Linked DNA regions of Homo sapiens: regions 1, 3 and 4 are each linked to region 2. Evidence: fine-mapped expression QTL. A gene starts in region 2. Each other region holds a variant in brackets. All regions are shown on one strand. Distances are between the middles of the regions.

Evidence for each region. PIP is the estimated chance that this variant, and not a neighbour inherited with it, causes the effect. A credible set is the group of variants that fine-mapping cannot tell apart.
Region 1: its variant is the best candidate, but not a certain one, in a credible set for the expression of SLC25A13 in fibroblasts (GTEx, PIP 0.85).
Region 3: its variant is the best candidate, but not a certain one, in a credible set for the expression of SLC25A13 in monocytes (Fairfax 2014, PIP 0.89).
Region 4: its variant is the best candidate, but not a certain one, in a credible set for the expression of SLC25A13 in whole blood (TOPMed, PIP 0.79).

The regions. Positions count from the first base shown.
Region 1 is chr7:96,145,520-96,150,674 of GRCh38, reverse strand. SLC25A13 (solute carrier family 25 member 13) reads left to right here. Exons shown (of 18, transcript NM_014251.3): 14 at 3,979-4,119. Among named protein-coding and RNA genes, the nearest start is that of MIR591, 72 kb to the left of the region's middle. The variant G/T (reference allele first, on the strand shown) is at 2,485.
Region 2 is chr7:96,320,096-96,325,250 of GRCh38, reverse strand. SLC25A13 (solute carrier family 25 member 13) reads left to right here and starts at 3,153. Exons shown (of 18, transcript NM_014251.3): 1 at 3,153-3,309. The coding sequence starts at 3,295. RefSeq lists a silencer at 3,018-3,357.
Region 3 is chr7:95,819,208-95,824,362 of GRCh38, reverse strand. All of the region lies in intron 4 of DYNC1I1 (dynein cytoplasmic 1 intermediate chain 1), which reads right to left. Among named protein-coding and RNA genes, the nearest start is that of DYNC1I1, 49 kb to the right of the region's middle. The variant C/T (reference allele first, on the strand shown) is at 2,486.
Region 4 is chr7:96,277,326-96,282,480 of GRCh38, reverse strand. It overlaps SLC25A13 (solute carrier family 25 member 13), which reads left to right. Exons shown (of 18, transcript NM_014251.3): 3 at 5,143-5,155. Among named protein-coding and RNA genes, the nearest start is that of SLC25A13, 42 kb to the left of the region's middle. The variant A/C (reference allele first, on the strand shown) is at 2,638.

The sequences.
Region 1 (5,155 bases), 170 kb after region 2:
TTGTGTCCTACATGTCTGTGTCTCAGTTTTCTCTTCTTGTAACAAACCAGTTGGATGGGATTACGTCCCACCCTAAAGACCTCTTTTTAACTTAATTTCTCTTTTAAAGGCCCTGTTTCCAACTATAGTCACATTCTGAAATATTTGAGAGTTAGGACTTCAACTATGACTTTTGGTAGAACACAGTTCAGCCCATAACAGTTGCTTTAATCTTTCTGTGCTTCAATTTCCTCTTATGTAAAATCTGCAAAAAGTACCTCTTGAGTGGACTGAAAATATGTAATATATGCAAAGCAACACCTTAATACCCCATAATAGATGTTTAATGAATATTCATGACTTCTACCCTTACTACTTCAAGCTTCTTGAGAATGAGAATAAAGCATCTTGTGTCCTTGCAGTTCTAGGACAAACTTTGAATTGCTTATAAATATTTGGTGAATGAAAAATCAAATAGCAGAAGTGAGTCTATAATAATTGTATGCATTTCTCTTTCTCTCTTAGATGGATCCAGATACTAGATGATAACTAAGATTTCAATAACAAAGAGTATACCAGGAAACATGTAGAAAAGTCAGTGTTACCGCTGTAAATATAATATGCCACACTGAGCCAGTTCAGTATGGAATATTTTCCCATGTCCTACTTGCCACAGACTCCAGTAAGTCATAGGGAAATGATTTGTGACAAAATTGCACACACACAAAAAAAACAGTATCTTCACACAGCCAGAGCTTTCAAGTGATGAGGGACGCAAAGACATTGTGCACAATAGGTGTTCCTGTCCATTGTCTGCCGATTCAGCTATCTTTGATCTCTGCAAAAGAGGAACCATGGGTATGGTACTGTGAATGCATAATAGACCAGGAATTGGAAGAGCGGCACGCAGTGTGCTGCTCAGTGATCAAGTCGTGGAGAGACCCAGACACCATGCATCTGATGATAAGCATCTTCTCTTGGTGCCTTGGAGTCTCTCATTTCCTTCCAGTTCGACTCCAAAGGGCCTGTTTCATCTTCAGCACCTTTACAATGTGCCACTTTGAGTCTGTAGGTTCTTTCTTTCAGAGGCCACCACAGATAATGGGTACATCATTATGTTTTCTTGATATCACTACATTCTTTCTTCCCCGTGCATCTGCCTCCTGCAGCTCTCTGAAGTGGATTTGACTCCTCATCATCCCTAGTGATAACTAACTCTGCTTTAAAAGAATTGTTATCTGTTGGTTGGCTTGGAGTCAGGGAGTTGAGTGTAAGTTCTTGTTTTATTGTATATAATGCTAGCAACTTTTACCAGTGTTAGTAAAGATAAGAGATAATAAGACAATTCCGTACCTAAGAATTGTACCCTTTCATAACAGCACCACTTGGATATGTAGAAAGAGTTTGTTGTGAGATCAGATGTAAAACAAATAAAAGTTATTCGTGAAATGATATGGAAGACTGGGATTAGAAACTGTGGCATTCAAGAAGCCAGTTAAGCTGATTCTCAGAATTGACAGAGATTCTAGAGATGGTGTAGTGCAGATGGTGTAGTGCAGGGATTCTCAGCCTCACTGCACATGGTAATCTCATAGGAAAATTTTAGCAAGGACAGATGCAGAAATTCTTATTAAACTGTCAGGACTGAAGTCCAGAGGTCACTATATTTTAAAAAGGTCTGCAAGTGATTGTAACATGCATCTATGGAGGAAAACATCAGCGTAGGAGAAAAAGGGAAAGAAACCAACTGGAGTAAAGGCTCTGTCTTGAGCACTGTGCTGGCTCCTGTACATTCTCCATCTCTTTTTATCTTCATAGTAAGTGAGATGGTTTGACAAATAGGGAGACCGAAGCTCTGCCTTCATGTGGGACACTCAACTGCCTCCTTCCCTGCTGTTGGCAGTGCTTGGATGAATATGCATTGTATGCCTCTTCTCTCTTCCAAGAAGACTGGTTTCTCTGATTACTTTGCATTTTACCCTGGATAGAGATGGTCTTACCCTCTTTTGAGCTTCAAAAAATCAGGCTTCAGGCTAATTCCAACCTGGTGAATCTTTCTCAGCAATTCTACCCCCATAAAACAATCTTTACATTTTAAATTTCTATTCATTTTTCTAACTATTCATAAGATTTTCGTATGAAGAGTTCTGGTTCAGAAACACAGAGAAAATCCTTACCGTGCCTCTCACATGGTTACTTGGTTAGGTGTGTTTCAACTCATCATTCTGCCAACCGTAAATAGCTGAGTCCATATCACATGGGAAATGTAGGTGCAAATTCACAAAACACTCACGGGCTGTAAACAACCAGGGAGTTGTTCTTCTCATGGACCTGCAGGTTGCAGCAGCAGCATCTGAGCAAAACAGAGCTGTTCTGAGCAGTAGGGCGGGGAGCAGCACGTCTTTGTGTGGACCAGAATGCACCAGCCTGTGGGTGTATCATCTCACACTCTACTTCCTAGACTAAGGCCCTTTCTTGGGCCTTTCAGTGAATCCAACCCAGGTT[G/T]GTATTTTGTGTTGTCCCCCAACCCAAACAAAAAATTCATTTGCACTTAAGGAAGAACAAGAGTGACTTGATTAAGGTATCAAGTTGGTAAAAATGGAAAAACAATTTGATTTAGAGAGTTAATGAACGAACATCTTTCTTTGATTCTTTTCATTAACATTACACATATTAGGTAAACTGTGTATAGGTGTTTATTTTTCTTTATGGAAGTCACACATGATCTATATAGAAAAAATTTCAAATACATCAAAAAAAAAAAAGGAAAAGAAAGATACTTGTAATCCCACCACTTCAGAAGCACCACTTTGGTGTATTTCTTCCACATGGTGGTAGGGGATGGCAGGGGGAAATGTGTACCAGTATTTTAAACATATGAGCATTTTTACTTAAAAGTATATATTGAACATTTTTCACTGTTGACTGCATAGTATCTCCATGCATGAACATACTCAAGTTCATTTAACCCATCCCTTACCATTAGATATTTATGTTGTTTCTAATTTTTCTTTCCAGCTTTTATAAATAATACTTCAAAGGCCATCCTTGTAGCTAGTTCTAATTAGTACAGTATAGTTTGGATGATATAAAAATTTCATATATGTGTGACAAGGAATAACAAGTTGAAGTACAGTAAGAAAGAATGTAATTGCTTGTGATAAATATAGGCTTAGCTTCAAAATAGCTAGCTTAAAATTTCCCTTATAGTGTACTTTAAAGATTTCACTGATGATCTTGGAGGTGAGGCATCTAGCCATTGCTGGAATGAAATAACACACGATGTTCAAAGTTTGGTTGGTAATTGACTTAGTGCATATTTTTGCTACTTTCATATACCACTTATCTCATATGAAAAGAGCAATTCTGTACACAAGTAATACATAAACAAAAATTTTAAGAATATGTAACTCCATAAAATGAGATTTGATGATTGACTTGAGTTTCTAAGAGAAAAAAATAATAACTTTCATCTAAGTTTACGTGTTCGCTGGCAGTTTTTGAATCGTTGCCAGAATCATGAAATTCATCATTCAAGAGCCTTTGTCCTCCTAGTCCCCGTTCTGTTCTGTGTCTCCTCATTTGGATACGTTCTGTGTCTCCTCATTTGGATACGTTCTGTGTCTCCTCATTTGGATACGAATGCTTTTCATTTTATTACTGCCTTTGTGCCCTTGGCTTTGAGTCCTGTGGTGGCAGTTGTTTGTGCTTCAAGGAGCATTTGTAATTTCAGTGTGAGGACTTGGGGAGGTCAACAGAAATCTCTGGTCTTTGCCCTCCTTCAGCCTCCACATTAAGGACATAGGGCTTCTTCCTAGGCAGTAACTGTATTTTGATTCATACTTGTAATCCCTAACCGTTTTGATTGATGGGACAAGGGCTGAAACTACATTCTCTTGAGGATAGAATATTTTTATCCTTGAGAATAATCATTCATCTCTTCCTGACCCACCTTACCATTTCTTTGCTTTGATCCTAAATCTTTTTTGTTCTTTTTAGGCTGGAGGCTCCCAGGTGATTTTCACAAATCCTTTAGAAATCGTCAAGATCCGTTTGCAAGTGGCAGGAGAAATCACCACTGGTCCTCGAGTCAGTGCTCTGTCTGTCGTGCGGGACCTGGGGTTTTTTGGGATCTACAAGGTAACTTTTTTTTTTTTTTAGTCATTTATTTGATTACTTTCTCATCTCCTAATGCAGAAACTATTCTTCAACATGAAATCCATTTTTTTTTGCATTTCTACACCTGGAGAAGATGTTCTACCCAAGCTGCAGAGGCACCTTCATGCCAATTAGAAGGAGGTGCCCCTTCCTGCCATCTGCCAAAAAACTATCCTCATCAATACACAAATCTAGGATGACTATGATAGGAATCGTGCCCTCTAGAGTTGTTCAGTGCAGCTCTTTGCAGCAACACTGGCTAGAATTTTATTTGGATTTGTTATTGATACGCTGAGTTCAGTTCAAGGAGAAACCTGTATCATAATTTATTTTCTGATCCTATGCATATGGTCCGATCCATGTTTTCTCTATATATGTATGCCTTGTCTTAATTATTATAAATCTTAATCATTTTTCATTTAGAAAATGTTTTTTCAGAATGATTACAAAACCAAACTTCTAGATGATTCTTGAAATTTTTTATTCATACTGCTCTACCAAAAAGTTATAATGGAATTTACTAGAACTGTCTGCCTATATGCCAACCTATAAGGCTTTATCAAACATAATGTATACACAAGTTTTCAATGAAGAATTTTTTAAAAAAACATTTTACGCTAGCTTGACTAAGTAAACCTTTAGGGATATGGGAGAAAAATAAAATGTCTACTTAAGATAGTTTCATTTATTTACACAGAAATGTATACAGTCACATTATATAAAATTAATACTGCTTTGTTTCTATAAACACATATCAAGAAATATTAAAATTATTCATGAATTTTGAATCAGCATCTTGAGCTCCATTTAACCCACTTTTTAGGTCATCTGTTAGCATGGTTTTGCAGAATACATTGTCTTCATTTTTATCCCAAGCTTTGTAATTTGAAGCATTTTTGACTTTTATGTATGATATTGTTCCTGCAAATTTTATCCCATAGACACATAATATTAAGACAGTCAATTGCTTTTTTCCTATTCCCAGTTAATCCTGAATGGATATAACTGGTCCCCATAA
Region 2 (5,155 bases):
CAGGGTGAGACCCTGTCTCAAGAAATACAAAAACAAAAAATAAAGTAAAATAAATATGTCTTGATACACACACATAAGCACAGCAAGACATGAAAAAATACAGTAGAATGTTAACAATGGCTAACTCTATTGATAGGATTATCAGTGATTTTTTGGCCATTACTATGATTTTCTGAATTTTCAAAAATGTCAAGAAGAAGTATAATGGACTTTTTCTATTAAAAAAATTAATGGAATATTGTTCAACCTTGAAGAGGAAGGAAATTCTGACACATGCTATATAACATGTATGAAGGTTGAAGACATTATGCTACAAAACACAAATACCATATGATTCCATTTATTAGGTACCTAGAGTAGTCAGATTTATAGGAGCAAAGTAGAATGGTGGTTGTCAGGGGGTTGGGAGATGGAGTGGTTGTTTAATGAGTACAGAGTTTCAGCTTTGCAAGATGAAAAGAGTTCTGGAGATTGGCTGCACAACAATGTGAAAGTATTTCACTACTAAACTGTACATTTCAAAATGGTCAAGATGGTACATTTTATGTATATTTTATTACATTAAAAATTTTTTGTTTCATTTACATTATAAAAGGAGAGCTTTAATGATGCCCTTAAAAATAAATACGTGGTACATGATGTAATTTTGTTCTTTACATGAGGTTGTATTTTCTCACCTCCTTTTACACTCCCCTTGTGGCAGCTGGGGCCATCCTCCACAGGAGCTTCAGACTTGTCCCCTTGTCATAATTTTCTCTAACAATTCTCCTGGTTTTCCTTTTGTCTTTTTTTTTTTTTTACTTTTTGCTGATCTTTCTTCTCTGCCTATGAACATGGTCAAGTCTTCTGGGCTTTGTTGAACCTTTTGAGAGTAGGTTAAATAGTTGCTTCTTTCTGTAATGCTTCTTTCTTAAGCTTCTACAACATAATTTGTATGTTGGACATACATTCTCCTTACAGACAGACTCACACACCTCAAAACACTCCTCTTGAATTACCAATCTCAGGTGTTTTTCCAGACACCCATACCACAAGTCTATGTGCAATATGGCACAACTCCCTTTTTCCGTCCCAACCCCACTAATTTTACCTTCTATGTATTCCTCTAGTCCTAGCCCATCCCCAGCCTGTCTCGTCTGGACATCCTGGTAGTTCAGTTGGAACCCATCCTCCATACTGCAAGCAGTGTTTTAGTCCATTTTGTGTTGCTGTAAGGGAATTCCTGAGACTAGAAGAACAGGACGGAAATGTATTTCTCACAGTTCTAGACGCTAGGAAGTCCAAGATCAAAGTGCTGGCAGGTTACGGCCTGGTTTCTCTGCTTCCAAGATGGCTCTTTGAATGCTGTGTCCTTCAAAGGTGAGGAATGCTATGTTCTTATATGGCAAAAGAGCAGAAGAGCAAGAGAGAGTGAACCCACTCCCCAAACCTCTTTTTATGGCAGCATTAATCCATTTATGAGGGCAGAGCCCTTGTGATGAAAATACCTCCCCAAGGACCCAACCTTCCAACACTGATGCATTAGAGATTGTATCCAACACATCAATTTTGGGGGGCACATTCAGACCATAGAGAGATCTTTCTATATCGAAAACCTAGTCATGCTGCTTCCTGACTTAAAACCCTTCAGTTAAGGTGCATACCCTTCAGCAAGGCGCCTAAGACCCACCATGACACAGCCCCTACCTGCTGGGCCAGACTCCTTCCACTAGTCGTGCCACTGCCCCAATCCCATAGCTCAAGATCAAGTTACCTTTTGATATGGTTTGACCGTGTCACTACCCAAATCTCATCTTAAATTGTAGTTCCCATAATCCCCACATGTCATGGGAAGGACCCGGTGAGAGACAACGGAATCATGGGGGCGGTTACTCCCATGCTGTTCTTGTGATAGTGAGTTCTTATGAGATCTGATGGTTTTACAAGGGGCTTTCCCCCCTTTGCTTGGCACTCATTCTCTCTCCTGCAACCCTGTAAAGAGGTGCCTTCCACCACAACTGTAAGTTTCCTGAGGTCTCCCAAACCATGCGAAACTGAGTCAATTAAATCTTTTGGTTTATAAATTACCCAGTCTCAGGTATTTCTTCATAGTGGCATGAGAATTCTCAGTATTCTTATTGAGCCCTGGGAACAGTCTGCTGCCTTAACAGGTTATACTGAAGTAAACATTTATGTGTCTCTTTCCCAATAGCCCTGAAGCTGTTTAACGGTTGGAACCAGTTCTTAAGTCATTTCGGGGTTTCCAGCACCAAGCACAGTGCCTAGCACATAGTAGGAAGGCACTCAATCAACGTTAATGAATTAAACTGATTAGTAATAAGTGCTTTTTGCTGCCATATTACATCCACAACCTACAATACATTAAAAGTCCTTTTCCCTGATCACCACTGTCTTATAAATTTTGATTACAAGGACAGAAGAATGAAATCCTGATGAAGAGGAGTAAGGCCTGGAGGTCATATAAGCAAATTTTCATTAAAATGCTTGTTTATTTATTTTAGTAGGGCCTATTTGGGGGAAGTCTTTTGACCCGGGCCTTTTGACTTCTACCGTTTTAACAGGTAGGGCTGAAATGGAGTAGTTTCATGAATATACGTTCTGCACTACATTCACTTGTTGGGTTCTTAAGAGTTCACCGATTTTGATCTAAAAGTAGGCGTGCCAGCAATATTTGCAATCTCGCCTTCTAAGTCAATGCTTTTGGATCAAAGTCTTTTTGGATCCAGTGTAAAGTGGAGCTCCTTCAAAGGGAACGCACAGGGGAAAAAATATCCAGCAAAGTATGTGTCCTAGTGGAGTTCTCAACTTCCCCAGGCCGTGCACCATCTGTCGTTACTTGCCCCTCCCATCGGTCCGAGGGCCCAGTAGCCCCTGGTATCAGCAGAAGCCAGCAGCTTCCCTGGTGGGGCCACCTGCCCTCAGGTGACGGGCTTGCACACGGCCAAGTTACCTCTGCCCACGCCGCAGAGGCCGCCGCTGCTGGACAGCGCAGCGGGGTCACGTGTCCCTGTCCAGCCACTGCCCCAGGATCTGAGCCCTCCCCGGCTGCAGGGCAGAGGCCGCTGGATCACGCGCACCCCGGCGGCCAAGGCTGGGCCCAGCCAATGGGCGGGCAGCATCCACATGACCCGCGCCGGCGGGAGGGCGTGGGGAGGCAGGCCAGGAACGCACGCTGCCTGGCCGTATCGCCGCCCCCACCGCCGCCGCCGCCGGGACTAGAAGTGAGCCGCCCGGGTCCCAAACGCCAGCCAGCCAGTCAGTGGGTCCCGCAGTCGCCCGCAACCGGGGCGAATCATGGCGGCCGCCAAGGTAACCGCGGGCCCGAGGCCGGGGGGAGCGCGCCTGCCGGATCAGCCTGGGGGTGCGAGAGGCTCGGGCGCTCACGTGTCTGGGTTGGTGCCACAGGCGGAGCAAAATGGGGTGCCGGGCAGCCGTTCCACCTTGCGGCTGCTGGAGGGAGGGGGCCACTCCTCCCGGGCAGCACAGGCGGTCGGTGCAGAGACCGAGGCCCGACCTCGCAGCGGAAACTTTGTGGGCCGGACACTCCCACTTGGCCGGGGAGGGAAGTTGGTGCCTGACGGGGCTGAGCCAGGGCCGACGAGGAGGAGCGGGCGCGACTGGGGCCTGGTGCACCCTGGGCCGGCAAGCGCTGGGGGTCCTCTCTACCTTCCCAGCGCGCTCCTGCTCCTGACCCCGCTGGTTGTTGACTCCGGCTTCTTCCAGGGGCCAGAGCCCGGGCTGAAGCCTGATCCTATTACGTTTCAAGGGCTCCGCCCTCCCGCGGGTGGGGAAGTTACTTTGACTTCCGTTTTGGAAACTGCCTAGGAGACTTGGTCTGCGCCTTTGTGAATAAAAAGTCCAGGGACTCTCCCCCTCCCCGCTTTCCCATCATTCCCATCTTCCCCCTCCCTCTCTCCATCTGACAACACTTAGATACCCGCCTCGGAGCATTTGAGAGGCTTCTTTTTGGGAACGATGAAACAGATTGTCCTGGGAGCCTGTCACTCCTGTGAAGTTGTACTTGAAAGGGGTTCTGTGTAATGTGAATCATTCACTAACCCAGAGGAAAGGCAACTCCAACACTTGACCTTTCCTCTTTCACCATTTCTTGAAACCTGGACACCATTTCAGTCTCTTTGGACTGCATTTCAACTTCTCTGGCAGAATACCATATTTAGTCCCAATCACTTGAATCATTTGGAATTTATTGCTTTTAATTTAAGTTCACGAAGGCAGCCCTCTAATCAAGCCTATACAACTTCTTAGCTCATTTTAAGTGCAGTGAACTTAAATATACCTAACATTTCAAACATTTGTCCTTAATCAAAACTCTGTGATAACCCTCAAGAGGAAAACATGGCCAACACATCATATTCCTATTTATTCAAGCAAACTAATCACATTTGCAATGGAAATTGTAAGCAGACAAATATATTTAAATGCTGTTCTATGACTTAAGTCTCTCCAGGCTCCCCAAATCCGTAGGCTTCTTCATGTTGTTAGTTTCTGTGGTCTAAGTGGCATTTCTCTTTTCTGTAATTACTCTGAGTTTCATCCTTAGGAAAGTACTCTGGGTGTGTGGGCTCATGTATGTTTGCATATGAACACACAGGTGTGCGTGTGTATATCTATCTATAACTTTTCAGCAGTTTCTCTGAGCATCACTAGGATTCAATTTTGGAAGCTGCCTTAACCCTTTCAAGCCCAATAGCCCTTGACCTTTTTTTTGCATTAAATTTGCATGCAACCAAGGTACAAGGCTTGGTATGAACTAATTCCCTAGAGTAGGTGGGACTAGGTACCCATTCTTTACTGTTAGTTTTATATCTGCAGGTAATGTAAATACTTTTACTTTATTAGGAGATAAGGTAATTGAGGAACATAAATTGAGACGTGTGCATAGAAATGGAGTATAAGACTTGAGTAATATTAAGTAAAATAAGTGACCTGGTGCTGTGGCTCATGCCTGTAATCCCAGCACTTTGGGAGGCTGGGGCGGGCGGGTCAGTTGAGGCCAGGAGTTCGAGACCAGCCTGGCCAACGTGGCAAAACCCTGTCTCTACTAAAAATACAAAAAAGTTAGCTAGGCGTGCTGGTGGGCACCTGTAATCCCAGCTACTCAGGATGCTGAGGCAGAAGAATCGCTTAAACTCAG
Region 3 (5,155 bases), 500 kb after region 2:
TGTAACAGAGGGTTGAAAAAATGTTCAAGGAACCTACAGCTCTTATGAGGAGATAAAACCTATACCAATAGGCCTGGCACGGTAACTCATGCCTGTAAGCCCAGCACTTTGGAAGGCCAAGGCAGGCAGATTGCTGAAGCCCACGGGTTCCAAGACCAGCCTGGGCGACACGACGAAACTCTGCATCTACAAAAAAATACAGAAATTAGCCGGGTATGGTGGTGCTCGCCTGTGGTCGCAGCTACTCAGGAGGCTGAGGTGGGAGGACAGCTTGAGCCTGGGAAGTGGAGGTTGCAGTGAGCTGAGATCATGCCACTGCACTCCAGCCTGGGTGACAGTAAGACCCTGCCTCAAAAAAAAAAAAAAAAACAAAAAACCAAAACATATATATATATATATATATATATATAGTTTAGTAGAACAAATCTGAAAGTAAAACTTGCCATATTCCATTTGACCTGGTCTTGGAGGAGGGGTAGGATTTGGGCCTAAATTCATTTTCCGCAGTGCTTAGTTTATTGGACTTAGGTGGCTGAGTTAGTCCACTAGGTCTTATAAGACTGTTATATTTTAGATGCCAACTTAACAATTTGTTGTGAGAACAATAATAACCAGGCAGACAAATATGTAAACCTGACAAAGTCTTCTCTCCTTGAAGCCCCGCTTCCTGGGAAGCCAGATGTCCAGCAGTATCTTTGGGACTAGAGTAGGTGATGCTGAATGTTTAACTATGACAGCTTCCCCTACCCGGCAGTACCACATGTATGCTGAGGGACATGGAACTTGCACTTAAGACTTTTCCATTTTGGTAAAAGAAATGAGACATATGAATATTTATGCCTAATAATATACCGATAACATCTACAAGGAAGAAAGTAGCTCTCATCACTTGCTCAGAGACTGGCACAGTTTAAAGTTTGAATAAATATGAGCTGAAAATATTAATAAATGCCATAGGAAAGACAGATTAAGAATGGTGATTGTTATAATTTCCCTTCACTTAGTGTTTGCTCCGTGCCAGCCAGCCAGGCATTGGACTGCAGTTTCATCATCCTTTGGAAGTCACAGCAGGGAGACACAATTCCACTGAAAAGATTAGAGATTCCATTTGACCTGGTCTTGGAGGAGGGGATAGGATTTGGGCCTAAATTCATTTTCCTCAGTGCTTAGTTTATTGGACTTAGGTGGCTGAGGTAGTCCACTAGGTCTTATAAGACTGCTATATTTTAGATGCCAACTTAGCAATTTGTTGTGAGAACAATAATAACCAGGCAGACAAATATATAAGCCTAACAAAGTCTTCTCTCCTTGAAGCCCAGCTTCCTGGGAAGCCAGATGTCCAGCAGTATCTTTGGGACTAGAGTAGGTGATGCTGAATGTTTAACTACGACAGCTTCCCCTGCCCTCCCCCACCATGACCTTATCTTTCCCCAAGACCAGACATCATCCTCACTGCTACCCAAGTCTCCCCTTTCTGGAATTCCTGGGATGACCAACCTAGCCTTTGTTGTTTGATACAATCTTTCTTTAACTATGTCAGTTAAATTTCCGTCAGTATTCCCCGCTGGGGAACCATCCTGGTGTTGTTTGTTTGCTTATTTTTATGAGTTGCATTTGGCTGCTCTGATTAGTTTCAATTGATTTCTTAGGCTAACTTTCTGAGGTTCTGTCTAGGTGGGATCTCTGATCTCTGTTTCATAGGAGCCCTATTATGTGTTCAGAAGCTAAGTAACCCAATAATTCTGTACCTACTCTGGACCAACAGGCACTGTTACGGTTCTATGGTCCCAGGGTTGGATTGGCTGTTTTGGACATGCCAATTAAGGTCACATTTCCTAACTTCATTTCAAAATACAGAAGCTTCCCAACATGGAAAATACTCACTTATTTAACCTTGAACATATCAAAAACATTGTAGCCTCTGGCACCTTATACAAAAATGCCTACCATGTAGTAGTTAATTTATAATTTGTGGGTCAATTTGTTTTTCAATATTTTTAAAAAAGAATAGGCAAACATCAAAATTCTTCAAACTAGCCGTAACCAACTAAGAGACAAGCAGAATTTCATTTCATATTTTAAACCTTGTACCAATTCATTACTTTTTAATTTCTTATAAAATTCCCCTTTCATTGGCTCAATTTTATTTGCTCAGTTTCAGTTTATGAGACAGAAAGAAGTGAAAATTTTAAAATATCCTTGGCCATCTGTTGAAAGTGTAACTTAGGAGTGAAAGACATAATGTCTGTGTTGCATATACCTTGCACTCTGATGAGTGGTCAATTTCTTCCCATTCAGCTTTTACCAACAACAAGTTGGTGGTTTCCATTCTTCTTTCCATCTTATTAGACCTCAGAGCAGAAAACCTTAGAATTATTTCCTAAAGAGTGTTTTTGTTCTTACCTTTTCTAGTCTTTGGCTATAAGAAAGAGATGTTCAATAAATATTTGGAAGGCAGTAGTTAACAAATTTCTCATTTATAATG[C/T]TAACACTCAATGTGGCTAAGGCAGTCTCATACACTGTTGGTAGCATTTAAATTAGTAAAGTTCTTTGGGAAGTAATATGCCAATATATGGCAGGAACATAAAAAATAGAATTACTCCTGGACTAGTTTTGCTCCCAGGACCTCAGCCTATGAAAATAAAACAGCGTCAATAATAATAATAATAATAACAAAAAATGATAATGATGATTATAATGATGACGACAACCACCTCCAAATCATCAAATCCCATGGTCGGTTCTTGTTCCTTATCTTTGCTGTCTCTGATTTTGGTCACTATTGGCTCCTTCTTGGCATAGTCTTTCTTTTAGTTTTCTTGGCCCTGAAAATCTTATTTCTTTTCCTCCCTCTCTCACTGTGTTTTTGGCAGTACCCTTGCTCTTTCCATTCCAATAAAGACAGGCATTCTCCAACCAGGATTCTATCTTCTCCCCTCACCTTTCTACTCTAACCCCAGGCAATCACACAGACGTCCATATATCTTCTGCAAAATAACCCCAAAGTCCTCATTACCATTGAGCTCTTCTCTGAGTATGCATATTTGAGAGCTGTAACTACACAGCAACATTTCCTTAGATTCAAATTAAATGTGTCAATTTACTTGCTCTTTAGAAGTAAGAAGAATATTTATATTCCTTGAAAGTCTAGTATAGTATCTGATAGACAATAAATTCTCAATTGTTTACTGAATGACTTGATGAATGAATGAACAAATGAATATTCTTTACCTGGCTTTTCTGTAGATGGGTGTGACGTGTGAGGGCAAGTTGATTCCAAAAGAAACAGTTTTTACGTTTTTATTAAAAAATGAAATAATAAATCAGGGCATGTCTCCCTAAATCCCTTAATATCCATCAAAGCATTTATGGAAAACTCAGTCTTACTCAGCGTGATGTCACTACATGGCCGCAGGAGAGTTTTCAGACTCACTTCCATACTGAAGAAGGAAAGCATATCTTATCTAATAAAAATGCTGACCACTGGCCGGCCATGATGGCCCATGCCGGTAATCCCAGAGCTTTGGGAGGCCGAGGCAGGAGGATCACTTGAGACCAGGAGTTCAAGACCAGCCTGGGTAACATAGCGAGACCCTGTCTCTATGAATATTATTATTTTTAAAATGCTCAACATATTGCTGATTTGTGGTGAAAAACAAAAGCGGTCCAGCCATCTTCTCTACCAAGTGAATTTAGTAACTTTAATTAGTCCCTGAAGCAACTGCACTGGAACTCAAATTTTCATGTTCTTCCTTTTCTCTCTAAGATGGAGAGAGAGCTCAAGGACAGAATACAGAGATTTCCTGAGTCGCACAGTTTCTCTGAGCTCTTGTTCCACATGTCTTCTCTGTCAAACAAATCACTAGTGATTAATCAGCCAGTGCAAACAGTTTGGGATTATGTAAGCATAGTGCCAAACAGAAAATATCTAGTCAATGCCATCGCTAAATATCTAATTTTTAAAATGCCGTTTCCAAAAGTAATACATGAAATAATAAGGACATTTTAAAATCCATCATATCACTCATCTGTCACATTCATTAAAGTGATGTTAATTAAGAAAGGATGGTATTCAAATAATGAGTTAATGTTTTATTTCCTGGCCTCAATTTTTTCCTTACTTAGGACTGGCAATGATGATAAAGATTTTCTGATGTCAGAAATAAATGTGGAACAGTGAAATACATACTTATATCAGGCTCTTTTTAAAAAGCATTTTTCTTAATTTATGGTGGGAGAATTTTCCATCTGTTGGCTAACACCTGAGCCCTAATATGGAGCTCCAGAGCGAGCCACACTAAGCCACATGGGAAGTCCATCTGAGCTGGATTCAATAAGAAATGTAGGACTTCCCATCATAGAACAAGAGCATGTTTTCCCAAAATCTTACACAAAAGTCCTGCTGTCAAGCAAGCAGTTTCTCTAGAAGAAAGCTCAGCTACCCTTTCCTAAAATAGATGCTTACTGTGTTACTATAACCATATGGGTACATAGAGCACACTTTGCCTGAAGACAATGATATTAAAAATTTTGAACTTATTGTGCTGCATAAAGAGAAAACCCTATAGTGTAAATCTTATTTTAATTTACAAAGAGACTGACTTTTAACCAACCTTGAATTAGCGACTTCAGTCTCCCCAAAGTCGAATTGGCTGGTAGCATCCTGTCAATCTCTCTTTATATAATGATACTTTAAAATTTTTTTGTATAAGCAAAATTTTAATAGTCTTATTAAATTTCCCCCATAATCTTGTATTATTTATTACACTTTTCACCTTTACTAATACTTCCTTTATGACTTCCCTTTAGCCTCTGATTTATCAGAGCATCTTAGAAGATGATGATGCTTTCACCCAAATGGGTCAAGTCCTTTGAGGCCTACATAGTTCCAAAGAATCCTGCAGAATCTGACTGTGGATAAAGGTGAAGGTCCTAAGGATTTCCTTTGAGTATTATGTCCATGTGGCCCCAGAACACATTTTTCTTTCCTGAAGTCACTAAAAAAAAAGTAGTAACTACATGCAGACAGGACAAGTTGCCCACAACGAATTATTGTAGCCCAAAAACAAGTATCTAAATTTAACCAAAGCTTTCTGTCAATAAGAAACTGAATAGTAACTATATGGAGGCCCAGTATCCAAGCTGAAGAGAGAAC
Region 4 (5,155 bases), 43 kb after region 2:
CAGTGACCTGTTGTGTGCACCTTCTCAGTGGTTGGAAAACAATGTAGGGGATTTGTCCTTCAGTCCCAGGATATGAGTGATTCATGACAAAATGGGTAGCTGGATGATTATGGTTCTACCCTGGCTCATTCACAGCTTACAAACCTTTATCAATTTACTGTGACTGATGGTGAGCAGGCCAGATAGGACCCCTGCCCTCGGGGTATGGGCATTTGTAGTGATAGGTTCCTTCTGGTTTCCTTTGCTGTCATCTTCACTGAGTATGGTGGTATTTCTTGGTGATGACAATAAGTATTATACAAGGTTGCATGAGGAATCCTAAAACTCTTCCCATTTTGCAGGTGTATGTTTAATCATAATAAAACTCCTGAAAATTGCAAGGGAGGAAGGCTTCAGCTCACTAGTGAAAAATATTCCCAAAGAAGGATTAATGACATTTTAAAGATGTGGTGGATATAAGGATATAGTCCGTTCCCCCTATAGGGACCCTCTGCTCACTGCTGCAGGGAGAGCAGAGCTGCATTTATCACTACCCTCATACATATTTTTATTATGGTCTGCCTCTGTCCATCAATCCTAAGGAGCAACCTTTGACATGTTTACTTAAATCACAGAGCAGACTGCCCAGCCGTGGTGATGAGCTTGTTTTAAAAACTGGAGAAAACTATTTCTGTGCCCAGATTAACATGCTCTTATATTTAAGAAATGATTTCTTTATTGCATCTAAAAAAATGAAGCTGATAATATCTCTCAAAGACTTCTAAAATGTAAACTGTTGAAATATAAATTGAATGCATACATCACAAATGTACAGCCATGAATACTCAGAAAGTGAGTAGGCCCATGTAACGAGCATCCCAGAGGCCCTCTGATGCCCCTTCTGATCAGCACCCACCAAGGGTAACCAGTTGTCTGAATTCTGGTCACTGTATGTTAAAACTAACTGTATGTAAGTTTTGCCTGTTTATTTCACTTTGCGTGAATGGAATTATACGCTAGGTTTTCTTATGTTTCTTTTCTTTTACCCTTAGGATTCGTCTGTTGTCATATGTAGTTGGAGTTAGTTTATTCTTTTTTTTTTTTTTTTTTGAGATGGAGTTTTGCACTTGTTGCCCAGGCTGGAGTGCAATGGGGCGGTCTCAGCTCACTGCAACTTCTGCCTCCCGGGTTCAAGCGATTCTCCTGCCTCAGCCTCTTGAGTAGCTGGGATTACAGGCCTGTGCCACCATGCCTGGGTAATTTTTGTATTTTTAGTACAGACGGGGTTTCACCATGTTGGCCAGGCTGGTCTCAAGCGCCTGACCTTAGGTGATCCACCTGCCTTGGCTTCCCAAAGTGCTGGGATTACAGATGTGAGATGCCGTGCCCAGCTGGAGTTAGTTTTTTCTCATTGCTGTGTTGTATTCCATTGTGTGAATTCACCACAAGCCATTAATGTATCCTACTATTGGTTGACATTTGTGTTATTTTTAGTTTTTTGGATACTACAAATAATGCCGCTGTGGGCATTTTCACATAGTTTTTGTGTATATGCACACTTCTGTTGGTGATATACTTCTGATTGAAATTGGTGGGCTTGTGGTTGTATGTTCAGCTATAGCAGATACTGCCCAGCATTTTTCTAAAATGGTTTACTCCTTTATTCTCATACCATCAGTGTGTGAGAGTAACATTTGCTCCACATTTTTGCCATCACTTATTATTCTTTTTCGTTATCTTGGGGGTATGGCATGGTATTGCATTGTAGGCTTTTTGTTTTATGTTTTGAGACAGGGTCTCACTTTGTTGCCCAGGCTGGAGTATAGTGATGCAAACATGGCTCACTGCAGCCTCAATCTTTTGTGCTCAAGCGATTCTCCTGCCTCAGTCTCCCAAGTAGCTGGGACTACAGGTGCACGTTACCCTACCTGGTTAATTTTTTATTTTTTGTAGAGATGGAGTTCCGCCATCTTGCCCAGGCTGGTCTTGAACTCCTGGGCTCAAGCGATCTGCCCACCTTGGCTTCCCAAAGTGCTGGGATGACAGGCATGAGTCAGTGTGCCCTGCCTTGCATTGTTTTATTTTGCATTTCAGTGGAATTTTTTTAGGGAGCAGCAACTTGATAATGATTCTAAAGGTCATTTGTGGAAAATCAAGGAGTGATCATGGCCAAAAAAATTTCCAAGTGTAAAATAATTCAATGTCTTTTTTAAACCTTTCATTCTTTTAAAAAAATATTTATTTGAACATGTTTCACTATCTACCAGGTACTAGTCTGGGAATTTGAGGACACAGCAGTAAAAATGAGAGAAAAAAAATTCTGTCCTAACAGAACTTTCCCTCTAGTTATAGCATGTAATCTTGCAAGAGTAGACGAGACAATTGAAAAGGATGGTCCTGAAACATCTCTGACTGCAGTGATGACAAGAGCTGTCATTCGATCCCAGCATTCTCCCATGGAGCGTAGGTCAGCCTCAGAATACATGTTGGCCCTAGGAAGCCTTTGCCAGTTCATCAGAACTGGTACTGCAGATGGAGCCATTTTGTCACGCCTTTCCCTGGTGACCATATGATAATTAAGTATGTGATAAACATGGCATCCTAAAGACCTGGAAGAGAGAATGATTTGCTTTGTGTTCGTGGGACAACCAAGAGATT[A/C]AGTGGAAAAATTAAAGTTGGGGGATTCTTACCTTAGATCACACACAAAGATAAAGTACTAATGTACTAAAACTTAAAGGTAAAAGATAAACCTACTTTAAAAAAACTCAGATAAACTCTCTGATATTTAGTCTTGAAATGAAGAAAGACTGGTGATATGGCTTGGCTGTGTCCCCACCCAAATTTCACCTTAAATTGTAATAATCCCCACATTTAAAGGGTGGAGCCAGGTGGAGATCATTGAGTCATGGGGGTGGTTTCCCTCATACTGTTCTCGTAGTAGTGAATAAGTCTCATGAGATCTGATGGTTTTATAAATGGGAGTTCCCCTGCACAAGCTCTCTTGCCTACCGCCATGTTAAGATGTGACTTTGCTCCTCATTCGCCTTCCACCATGATTGTGAGGCCTCCCAGCCATGTGGAACTGTGAGTCCATTAAACCTCTTTTTATTTATAAATTACCCAGTCGCAGGTATGTCTTTATTAGCAGTGTAAGAACAGACTAATACAGCTAGTGTCTAAGCTTAGAAAAGTAATGGAAGAAATTTCAAAGGAGAAAAAAATTCTATACACTCAATTATATAAAAATATCAAACTGGAAAAATATTTGCAACAAATATAATAGACCAAAGTGAGTAAAGGGCATGTTCACACACTGTTGGTGGGAGTGTAAATTGGTACAATCTTTTCCGGAGAGCAGTGTGATAATAAGTACCAAGAGCCCAGAAGTTCCTCTCCTTTGACTCAACAATTTCTCTTCTGGGAGCCTAGCCTTTGAAAATTGCCAGGAATTTGGACAAATGTTATATTCAAAGCTTACTACCTTAGCTTTATTTAAAAATACAAAAAACTGGAAATGTCTACTGGTAGGAGAAAAGTTAAATTGTATAGTAAAATAAATTATTCACTATCAGGGGCAAACTTAGGTATAATTACTAAGTCATAAGATTGCTGTAATTAGCAGTGATATTTCCTTTATATTTTCATCTTGTTTTGGCTCAGTTAGGAAAATCAAAATATAATTCTTTACATGTCCAAAAAGCCGAATTAAATGCTAACTGAAGAATAGTAGGATCACTGGGGCATCTTTGAGCCTTTCCCTTGTAGTGTGCTAAAAAAAATGTTAACTGTAAGACAATACTATAGAACATTTATTTAATATAAAGTACTTATTGTGTATAGGGCGTTGTGCTAAGTATATGACATGAGTATCTCATTTAAATATTTCTAGCATCAGTCTTATGAAGCTGTAATGTTATTCTATTCATTTTGCAAATGAGGAACCAGAGGTACCAAAAGCTTTAGTTACTTACCTGAGGCCATTCAAGTGGTAAGAGGCACAGTCCAGACCCGTGGGATGCCAAAGCATATTACTACTGAGTATCTGAGCAAAGCCTTAGTCTGCATTGGAATTAAAATGTAGAAATAACAAGTGACTTTTAAAAACAGTTTTAATCAGGTTTAACTCAGATTAGAGAGAGAGGGGAGACACTGCCCTGGCACTTCACTGCGCACCCTCCATCACTATGGCTACCAGTGTGGTTCTTATCACCCAGCTAGGCTTGTTCTTGTAGATGCACTATCCTTGCCTCCTCAGTCCCCAAACCACTGCTTTGTCCCCAGGATCAAGAGGCCGTCTCCTGCTTCATAAGGACACCACATGATCCCATGTCGTTTCTCAGCATTTCTGCCCTTAGGGCTCCATGCAACAGAAATTAATGGGCTCTCTCTTATCCAGGCTGGAGTGTATCACATTAAAGGCCAGACCTAGGAGAACACTGTGAGGAAGCGTTGTTTGCCACCTAATTCTTACTGAGCATTTCTGCATGGTAATGCCTTAGAATGGAGAGGACAGTAACTAGAGCAGCATTTACTGCCTCCCTCCATAAGATTGCCCAAGATGACACGCACTTAGTAGTTTGCTGTCCAGCTTAGCTTGTTTGCCATCCTTTCTTGTATCATTGATGCTCTTAAAGCAGGAATGGGGCAAAGGAATTAGGTTGTTTGCCTCCATGACTTCGTAATTCCACTTTTTTTTTTTTTTTAAAAAGCTATGTGCCTTTGCTAAAAAACAAGACATAGTTTGTCTTTCCAAATTTCTATAAACCAGGGTTTCTGAACCTGGACACTGCCCACACTTTGGGCTGGAGAACTGTCTGTTGCAGGGAGTCATCCTGTGTATTGTTGGATGTCTAGCAACATCCCTGGCCTCTACCTGCTGGAGCCAGTAGCACCCTTCCTCACATGTTATGACAATCTTAATTGCCATCAGATATTGCCAAGTGTCCCTGTGGGAAAACATTGCTCCCAGTTAAGTTTATAAACATAAAACTTGACTTGTTTTTTCTTTGAACTGTTGGGAGATAATGGTCATTATGAAGCGTACATGATCATATCTGATATTTTATCGTTTGGATATTTTCAACTTTTTCACATATCACTCTCATGATTATATACTGTTGAAAATCAAATATATAAAATACTGTTTTTCTTTTTTTTAAACAGTATGCAAGCATTG